2 linked regions of the Homo sapiens genome follow. The protein of the gene in region 1 interacts with the protein of each later gene in a biochemical or structural test. Each region holds a gene or a part of one and is shown on either strand. Other genes may lie near its edges.

Region 1 (5,335 bases):
TTAAATTTGCATTATAAAGACGTCTGACAGACATTTCAAAATTTTTTTTTTTTTGAGATGGAGTCTCGCTCTGTCGCCCAGGCTGGAGTGCAGTGGCGCAATCTCGGCTCACTGCAAGCTCTGCCTCCCGGGTTCACGCCATTCTCCTGCCTCAGCCTCCAGAATAGCTGGGACTACAGGCGCCCGCCACCACGCCCGGCTAATTTTTTGTATTTTTAGTACAGACGGGGTTTCACTGTGATCTCTCGATCTCCTGACCTCATGATCTGCCCGCCTTGGCCTTCAAAATGTTTTTAAACATTAAAATAACTCAGACCTATCTCCATATTCAAAAATCAATGCTATTAAATAAACAGAAATGAGATACCATGATACACTTATTAGAATGACCAAAATCCAGAAAACTGACAACACCAAATACTGGAGATGGTGTGGAACAACAAAAACTCTTATTGTTGGTAGGAATACAAAATAGTTCGGGCACTCTGGAGGGCAGTTTGGGAGTTTCTTACAAATCTAAATATATTCTTACCATACAATTGGACACCCTGGTATTTAACCAAAGGAGTTGAAAAGTTGCATCCACACAAAAACTTGCATAGGATGTCTATAGCATTTTATTCATAACTGCCAAAACAGAAGCAACCAAGATGTCCTTCAGTAGGTGAATGAATAAACTAAGGTACATACAGACAATGGGATATTATTCAGTACTAAAAAGAAATAAGCTATCAAGCTATGAAAAGACATGGAGGAAAATTAAATGCTTATTTCTAAGTGAAAGAAACCCATGTAAAATGGCTACACACTGTATGATTCCAACCGCATGAGATTTTCCCAAACGCACAACTATGGAAACTGTAAAAAGATCAGTGGTTGCCAGGGGATGGAGGAGAGGGAAGGATGAATAGGTAGAACACAGAGAATAAGCTTAGTGCAGGGACACTATTCTGTATACTATAATGCTGGATACATGTCATTATACATTTGTACAAACCCATAGAATGCACAACACCAAGATGTGTGCACTCTGGGCTCTGGATGATGATGATGTGTCAATATAGGTTCATCAACTGCAACAAATGTACTCTTGTGGAGGATGTCGATAATGCATATGTACATATGTAGGGACGCAGTTATTTGAGAAATCTCTAGACCTTCCTCTCGATTTTGCTGTGGACCTAAAACTGCTTTAAAATATGAAGTCTATTAAAAAACAACAAATCCAGATAAACTGACTTAAATCTAAAAAATAAAACTGCAAGATTCTTAGGAGCAAACTTGGGTAGCTATCTTTTAAACCCAGGATAGGGAATAATTTATTTAAAAGGGCATGAAAAGCAATTACAGTAAGTCCTCACTTAACACTGCTGATAGGTTCTTGGAACTGAGACTTTAAGAAAAACAATGTGCTTCAGGTCCTTTAATAATGCTGTTTCGCTCAATATCATTTCTTTTCTTTCTTTTTTTGAGACAGGGTCTCACTATGCTGCCCAGGTTAGAGTGCAATGACACGATTCCAGCTCACTGCAGCCTTAACTCTTGGGCTCAAGTCATTCTCTCACCTCCACCTCCAAAGTAGCTGGGACTACAGGTGTGCATCACCACTTCTGGCTAATGTTTCATTGTTTATAATATCATTTCCTTAGAACACTGATGAGAAAAAAGAAACTGGTTTCATTATAAGTTATTTTGCTTAAAGTCAGTTTCCAAGAACCCGTCAATGACATTAAGTGAGGACTTACTGTATGATAAACAATGGACAAATTTGACTTAAGAATTTTTTTTATCAAAAGATGCACAGCAATGACAAAAACTGTATTTAGGATTCCGAGTTTGTAAACTTCTGAACTAGTAAACTGTTCAGAAGATTAATATTTTGCTTTATATCCAGTATTAAATCTGATCAACTCCAGCATTTTAATGGCAAGCTATGAAAATACCTAAATAACTGACTCACATAATCTTACGGAATATACTGCCCTTTAAACAAAAGAATAAAATATTATTAATGACTAATAATAAGTAGTTTGCAACAGAGAGGTATGGAATTGGAAAATAAGCAACTGATGAAGTGTATGTATAATTTTTGCTATTTCTTTGCTTCTGAATTTACTCATTAACTAAATCAACCTAGCATTTGGGTGCCTAGCATGTGTGAAGCAATACAATATTTTATACAACTTCCTATGGCTGTTCATTTGGATAGTTTACAAATCCCCAGGCCATAAACTATTAATATAACTTTACCCTTTCTATACCAAATGTACAATAGATATTAAATACAAGCCTGTTGATGATAACGATGTAAATTATTCCAAATATTTGCCAAAGAAGGTAGAGGCATTTAAAACTGTCCCTCCCACACAACTCCATAAAAGAAAGCGAAAAAGTTAGGAACTGAAAGAAGACATTCACAATGTACACAGAGGATTAACATAAGCAATATAAAGAACTCTTATAAACTAGTAAGAAAAACAAAAATAGGCAAGAGACATAAATAGGAATTTCACTGAAGAAGCCACGTAAAAAGGCCGACAAACATAAAAAGAAGTGTTCTACATCAGTGATAACCAGGAAAATGCGCATCAAGACCACAATAAGGCAACATTTTACACCCTTATGATTTGTAAAACTTAAAAAGAGAATATCAAGTGTTGGAGAGGATGGATAACCAAAGGATCTTTTATTTCATATATTGCTAATATGAATATAAATTGGTGCAACCATATTGAAAGTTCTGCATCATCTCTTAAGTTGAACATTCACCTACCCTGTGAGGCAGCAATGCTACCTCTAGGTATATAATAGGAACTGTGGCACATGCACAGTAGGAAACATGCAGACTGTCCATAGGATCTTTGCTTATAATTACAAACAAAACAAAACAAAAAATGGAAAATAACTGCCCAACAAGGGAGAGTGGATAAATATCCAAATATCCACCAAAGTAGAGTTAATGAATATTTTACTCAATGAAATATTATATAGCAATTTAAATAATGACTATAGCAACATGCAAAAATGTGGATAAATCTTATTTATAACAGGTGAAAAATCAAGTTCAAAAAGATTATATTCACAATTCTATACAAACAACTAAAAGATGTTTAGATTTATATGTCCAACTAAACTATACACAGTAGTCTCCTTTTATCCACCGAGAGACCTTCAGTAAATGCCTAAAACCACGAACAGTACTAAACTCTATTTACACTTTTCCTTTAACATACATACTTATGCTAAAGTTTAATTTATAAATTAGGCACAGTAAGCAATTAACAATAACTAATAATAAAATAGAACAATTATAACTATACTGTAATTACAGTTATGAGTGTGGTTTCTCTCAAAGTATCTTAGTACTTATAAATATCTTATAGTACTATACTGTACTCACCTATTTTTGGACCACAGTTGACCATGGGTAACTGAAACCGTGGATAAGGAGGGACTACTATATAAGGAAGAGAATGAACACAGGACTCAAAAATGATGACCTAGATGACAAGAAGGTGGAAATAGACGGATAGAATAGAGGAAAACTATACGTAGGTTAAAGTTCCTAGCTTGTTTTGAGAGAGGGGGAGTGGTGGTCCATGAGTACTTATTAAAATGATTGACAGACAGATAGGTGATTAATCCAATGCAGTGTGCCTGATGTTTAACAAATTTTTTAAAAATCCAAAAGTTGCATAAAATTTGTTCAATGAAAATTCTGAAATGGAGAACAAACACCTCCTTAAAGAATCCCTAAGGTAGCAACTACAGGGAAGGGAAAACAGTATGATTAATGTGTAAAATATATGATACTCAGGCCAGGCACAGACGCTCACATCTGTAATCCTAGCACTTTGGGAGGCCAAGGCAGGTGGACTGCTTGAGTCCAGCAGTTCAAAACCAACCCGGGCAACATGGCAAAACCCCGTCTCTCCAAAAAAATATAAAAATCAACCATGCATGATGGCTCACACCTATAGTACCAGCTACTTGGGAGGCTGAGATGGGCGAATCACTTGAGCCCAGGAGGCAGAGGCTGCAGTGAGCCGAGATCACGTCACTGCACTTCAAGCTGGGTGACAGAACGAGATCCTGTCTCAAAAATAAAAATAAAAATAAAATAAATAAAAAACTCTCAGCACATGTATTGTGTGGTATGTCTTCTATAATCAAAAATAAATTCCAAATTTTGTCATAACTACATTCCATTAAATTAAGGTACTTATGAGCCAGGGCAGTAAAACTTTCACCAATTTGATAAGTCACTGACAAATTTCTAAAAGAGATAAATCCTAACAATATTATGTAAGTCTTGTATATCCACTCATCTTTATGAGGCACTTCAACACTACCTTCACATTTAAGGTGTTTACTGTCATCAAGTACACTGTCCCATGCTTTCTTGATCTTCATTTTTTACAGGCAATATTTATGTATATAATGTTACACAAATTTCATTTTTGTGATTGCAAAAAAAAACCAAGTATGATAATAGAGCTAGTTTCAAACAAGATTTCATCAGATAAAATTAAGACAAGCTAGACATGCATCAAGATAAAGATTCTCTATTTCTGTTTCATTAAGGAATTACTTTTTCATTAGTATATTTTTCCCACTCTAAATTTTAAATCTTTTTAAAGCTTTTAACTAGTTTTCAACTTTGCTGTCAAGTTTGAACTCTGCTGTATATCAAAAGTTGATCATATTAAATGTCATATACTGTAGAGTAAAATTGGCTTTTGAAATAATATAGACATTTGACAATTATCAGCACAGTATATTTTATGAGGGAATAATGTAGAATTAACTGTTTTATTCAAATACCATTTATGGTATGAAAGTAACATTATTTTAGGTGATGTTTACAAACTACTACTTTATTTGTTTAAAAGTAAACATGCTTCTGATGAATGGCATGAAAATTTACCATTGCCAAATTCAAAAAGCAGAAATAAGAGAGCCCAAGGAATCAGATGCTAAGCTCTGGGATAAAGAGATGATGTCTAAAAGGTGCCCCTACTTGTCCCTATTTCAACACTATGTGAATGGTAGGAATTGCATGATACTAGACCTAATCTCTATTACACTAATGAGAGATGACAAAAAAATCCATTTTAGAGCCATCATTTAGTAACACTAGTTTTAACACAGACTTTTATCTTGGTAGTCAAGAAATATTTGGAAAGTTATTTAGTATGTTTAATTCAGCAAAGTATGCGCTGCAAATTACAAACATTGTGGTAGTCTATAAGAGCAGCAACAATCAAACCTAAGCCGGAAAAACACACTGTATTGCTATATTATTCAAAGAAATTGTTGCTATACTTCATTACTG
Region 2 (5,335 bases), on another chromosome or scaffold:
CCAACAGGCGGGTGGCTTAGTTAGCTGTCTAGAGATGGTATAGTTTCAGGGATATTGGGCACAGTATTGTGCCACCAGATAGCTCTTCACATCTGCAAAAACCAGCATTATCGATTCATCTGGGGCGAGAGTCATAAAGCTCTTTCAGGATTCTAGAGTCCTTTATTAAAACACAACTTCCGCTAAAAGGCTGTGTTATCAGGACTCATTTTAGGGGAATAAATTGACAAATATTTGAGAGTGGTCTGTTTTGCCTCCCACAAGTTTGCTAGGGAAAATGTGTAGGTGTTTTGGGAACCACAGAGGTTGGGAAACATTCCTGGCCCTTGGTAAGCTGGCATAGGAGAGTCCCACAAAAAGAATAATTTTTCTCTCCCAAATGCCAATGGTTTCTGCCCCTGTTGAAAAGCAATGACTGAGGACAAAGGGAGACTTCACCTCTTTCTCTGTAATGTCCAGGGCTACCTTGGAGAGTCATGAATTGGTAGAAATTAAAACAAGTGAGTATCTAGAGGGACATAATATACCCATTCAGAGGAATTTTAGAGCATTGCTTCTTTCAGTGAATATAAATATAAAGCCGGAATCTTGTGAGTATGCCAATTCTGATTCAGTGGGTCCAGGGTGGTGCCAGGGATTCTGTATTTCTAATAATCTTTCATGTGATGCTGATGCTGCTAGTTCACAGACCACACTTCAAACAGTGAGGATTTAGGATAAAATGCACATGGGCAATAACATGGTCTTGGATTAAAACATTATGAATATGGAGGAAATTTGACAATATCTTAAAAAATTAAATTTTAGGCAAGTAAGACCTTGATTAAATATTGAAAATCTCACCGAGAGATTGATAGATCATGAAAAAGTAGGATATACTTAACATTTCTAACTATCTGAAGACTTCGGTGACCCTTTTCTGAAGCAGATGTGTTACTTAAATTTTTAAATCTTTGCTAATAGTTCTGCTGTTTTACTAGTTAACCAACTCCAGATACTTTATAAAGATACAGAAGTAATTGTTGTTGTAATCTCAGGTACTTCATCATGTTGGTAAAGACTTCAGTAAATATTAATATCTGATTAAATATTCCATTACAAAATTCATATCAGGGCTGGTTGAAACCTTTCTCTCTGTCTTTTATTAATCTATCATGACAGCCTCTCTGATCTTTCCTCTGAGATGAACAATGTCCTTATATGTTTGTAGGTCAATGGGAAGGATCTTTCAAAGGCCACTCATGAAGAGGCAGTGGAAGCTTTTCGCAATGCCAAGGAGCCCATTGTGGTGCAGGTGTTAAGGCGAACACCTCTTAGTAGACCAGCCTATGGGATGGCTTCAGAAGTGCAGCTTATGAATGCCAGCACTCAGACGGACATCACCTTCGAACACATCATGGCTCTGGCCAAGCTTCGTCCACCTACCCCTCCAGTGCCAGACATCTGTCCATTCCTGCTCTCAGACAGGTATTTTTCTATCATTTCTTCCAAAGCCCTGTTTGTTTCCATTTGTCACGTAAAGCAGATGTTGAAAAGAAGCAGTTCCACTAGCAGGTTGACAGTTATGGAGACAGGCTTCCCAGCTCCGTTTGGAAAATGTCTCCCCTGTTTTGATATGTGCAATTAGTTCTCAGTGGTCCCTGCTAGCTACTCTCCCTGACCCACATGGTTGCTCCACCTGGGTAATCATACTTGCTAGCTGCTGTGAAAAATTCTGGCTCTGATTAGTTCATCTTCATATTACTAGCTGTCAAAAGCCTCATGCTACTCATGAACACTGGTCAGGGAAATCACTTTTCTCACCAAAGCTGCCAAAAACCTTATTAAGACTCATGTGGAAGTGGCATCTTGGCACCACATTCTCCTCTGTGGGCCACCTCTCTCTCTTCCTTGCATTTCTCTTCTTTAAAGAGAAGCTAGGAAATTGATTTAATTAAAGTGCAATTCTCTGACGAAAGCACTTACCCAATATATTGAGATATAAACAAAGGATCTTGGCTGTCAGAGAGTAAGTATAGTGCTATCAAATAAAGATCTATTCAAGGAATACTTCCTCCTGATTTTTGCCTAATTTAAAGGAAGTCAGAGAGATTTTATTCAAATAATCCTACTTGAACAGTTTTAAAAGTATGCTTGCCCAATTCATTGTGTTCTGTGAGCTTTCGAGCAAATATTCAAACATTGAGAGTTTGTAAGAGCAATAGTCTCCTTAGCCTGCATTTTCATCACCTACTCCAATCCGCTCTCTACTTCATAAAACAAAGATCTGAGTCATGCCACTTTCCTGCCCTTTGATGGCTGGCTCCCATAAGCCCGTTTCAGTGGGTCACAGATGTACAATAGAATCACCTGGGAACTTTCAGAAGCTGTATCAGTACCTGAATCACTCCTTAGGCCAATTAAATGAGAATTCTTAGAGTAAGGCTTAGGCATCAGAAATTTTCAAAAGTCTCCCTAGGCAATCCTAATGTGCAGCCAAGTTTTGAAAACACTTCTTGAGACTTCGAGTTCCAGGAAGGCAGGGGATCTGTTTGTCTTGGGTATCTCTTTATTTTAAATAGCCCTTTGTATCAGACACAAATTGGATGTGTCAGGGCTTGCAACTAGATGCTTGGCATAAAACTATGAACAAAAATAAAGTCACTGCCTTCTAGAGTTTATATTCTACAAGGGGAGTTGAACAAAAAGCAAGGAAACAAATATATAATATTCATTAATACAGCCTAAAACATAGTAGCCATCCAACAAATACTTCCTTGAATGAATAATAATAGCTAGCTTGTATTAGCTAACTTAACATGCTTTCAGTATTATTCCAAACGTTTTGCATTTATTGACTCATTTAGTTCTCACAATAATCTTAGGAGGGAGTACATTATATTATCAACATTCTATGTCTAAGATGAGGGAACAGATATTAAGTAACATGGCCAAGATCACATAGCAAAAAAGTGACAGGGCCAGGCTTCTAGGCCTAAGAGGTCTGACCCCAATGCCTACCCCCTTAGCCAGTGCATCTTGCTGCTCTTCCTAGGTCCTGCAGACCTTAGCTTAGAGACAACCTCCTCTAGAAAACTTCCTAGGGCTGCAGTGGGTCCACCCCTACCATGTGCTCCCAAGGCTCCTGTATTTTTCCCTTAATTATTGCACTGTATTAAAATTCCCACTTTGCTGCTTTCCCCAATTAATAGGGCAGAATTGGATTTTGTAAACCAACATATTTCCAGCACTTGGCCTTGCATCTGGCAGCCACTAAATAAACGTCGAATGAATAAAGTGTTCCTCACAGCAGGGCTCCCTTCTTACTATCCGAAAGACAAGGGAAACACATCAGATGTCCAAAGCAGCAGGCTTCGATATTCCAAGAGCCCAAAAGGGCTATGCGGACCCAGTCCAGCTATAAGCAAGGAGATTTATCTGGTAGACACAAGGCAAGGTGCTGCCTGTATTACTTTTACCATTTTGGCCTACACTAGTTAGACCTGTGTGGAGCTGACAGCCATAGATAGTAGTGAGGAGAGGCTGGTAGAATATTTACGCTGACTATAGTATGAGGGCATGAGGATGGGTCTCTTGCCTTTCAACAAGGGAGAAGGGAACTAATTGATACTGCTATCTCCAATTTTTCAAAAAGATCCACACTGGCAGGAGTTAGAGGTCTCATCTGCAACCAACTTGTCAATTGTATTTAGGCTTTTTCAGTGTCTTTTAGAAATAGAAAAGGCCTTATGCTCTTTGCTGTTAAACTATGCTTAGTCTTCATATGGTATGATGTGTAGTCTTTATATCAGAACATACTAAATCGAATAACATGTTTACAAACTATTTAAAAATTTCCTAAAAGTTGAAATACATAAAAGCCATATCCTCTCATTTCCTTAATGTAATCTGCTCTCTCTGTCACTGAGAATTTTCTAAAGGTATTTTGAAACCTTGTGGCTTATAGGAGTTTCCACTGATTGATCGCCATGAATGTTCTTTAATATTTGTGTATATGTCCTTGATCAAAGAGGGGAAAATGTGCATTATGAGGGAGAGTGAGAAAGGGGGATCTTAAGAAAGAGAGGAGGGGACAATGTGAGCACATTTTAGAGTCTGAAAAAATAAGTGCTTTTGAAAATGGTTTTCAAAAAATAGTTTGCAGCTGTGGATTATGAAATTGGTAGTACTTTATGACAAAATACCCCTCTTTGAGTAGACTGCAATCTCAAATGCCACACACCCACGTATGGAGCTTGTCACATTCAGTGGAATGGAAGCAGGCCAGAAAGTATCAATAAAGCACCACGGACTGTCAGAGATTTCACATCAGTCTTTCCACAGAATACAACTCTGACCATAGGCCCTTATTCCTAGCATTCTCTCAGAAATTGCAAATTGATGGACTTCACGTAGAGGGAGAAAGAAAAGCTATTGCTTTTCCTCAGCTGTAGTTTGTTTAAAGACTAGATCACTACAGATCTTATTCCAAAGCAGAGCAAACTAAAGTGAAATTCTAAAATCAGTTTTAATCTGGAAAACAACCCATTTAATCTATTCCTATCATATTGCTACATTCCCCATAGCTGCCATTCTCTACATCCAATGGAGCATGAATTTTATGAGGACAATGAGTATATTTCCAGCTTGCCTGCTGATGCAGACAGAACAGAAGACTTTGAATATGAGGTAAGGTCATTTTCATACCACTTCACATTTCTTCATGAAGTTACGGTTGAGGGGTTTTGTATAACAAAGAAATTAATTTATTACAGTGAGAAATGTCTTGTCTATTACATATCCAGTGTAAGATCTTTCAAATACTATTTGCTTTAGCTATGTGGCTCTCGTGTTTTAAGTATATTGGAAAATATTTTTATAGTATAAGCTTAAATATAATTTGCTCTCATTTTGTTGCTTTTTAATAAATAATATTGCAACAGCTACATTTTTAAAATCTGTTCTATAATATATGTGGATTTCCAAGTGGAGTTTGAAAAATATATTTAAAACAAAGATTGTGTTTACTATTTTCATTTGTTGTATAATATTCTAATTTTCATTGATAAACTAAATTTTATTATATTGTATTCTTTGGAAATGCAATACTCTCTTTGTGCCTCTGGTCTGTACTCTAAAGAGCCATTTCACAGACTTCCTAGAAATAGAGATGGCCTCATGCCCTTTGTTGTTAAACTATATTTATTCTTCACATGGTTTAATGTCAGAATATCTGTACTGTGATATATAACAATTCGAAAAGTCCATCCATTGATTATTTAAAAGCTCTCACAAAAGTTAAAGAATGTATCCTAATATTTCCTCTGCTTCTGCAGCCTGAATATCTTTGAAAGGT

Evidence for each region. Proteins that work in one complex are often made in the same cells at the same time.
Region 2: the proteins of PKN2 (region 1) and PDZRN4 interact in a test that uses a peptide from one of them, tested with the Homo sapiens proteins (one large-scale study listed by IntAct).

The regions. Positions count from the first base shown.
Region 1 is NC_000001.11:88,689,846-88,695,180, reverse strand, and holds part of PKN2 (serine/threonine-protein kinase N2), read right to left. Parts: intron 3,458-5,335; exon of another isoform or gene 3,401-3,457; intron 1-3,400. UniProt on the Homo sapiens protein: PKC-related serine/threonine-protein kinase and Rho/Rac effector protein that participates in specific signal transduction responses in the cell.
Region 2 is NC_000012.12:41,505,246-41,510,580, forward strand, and holds part of PDZRN4 (PDZ domain-containing RING finger protein 4), read left to right. Parts: intron 1-1,210; coding exon 1,211-1,467; intron 1,468-4,565; coding exon 4,566-4,668; intron 4,669-5,335.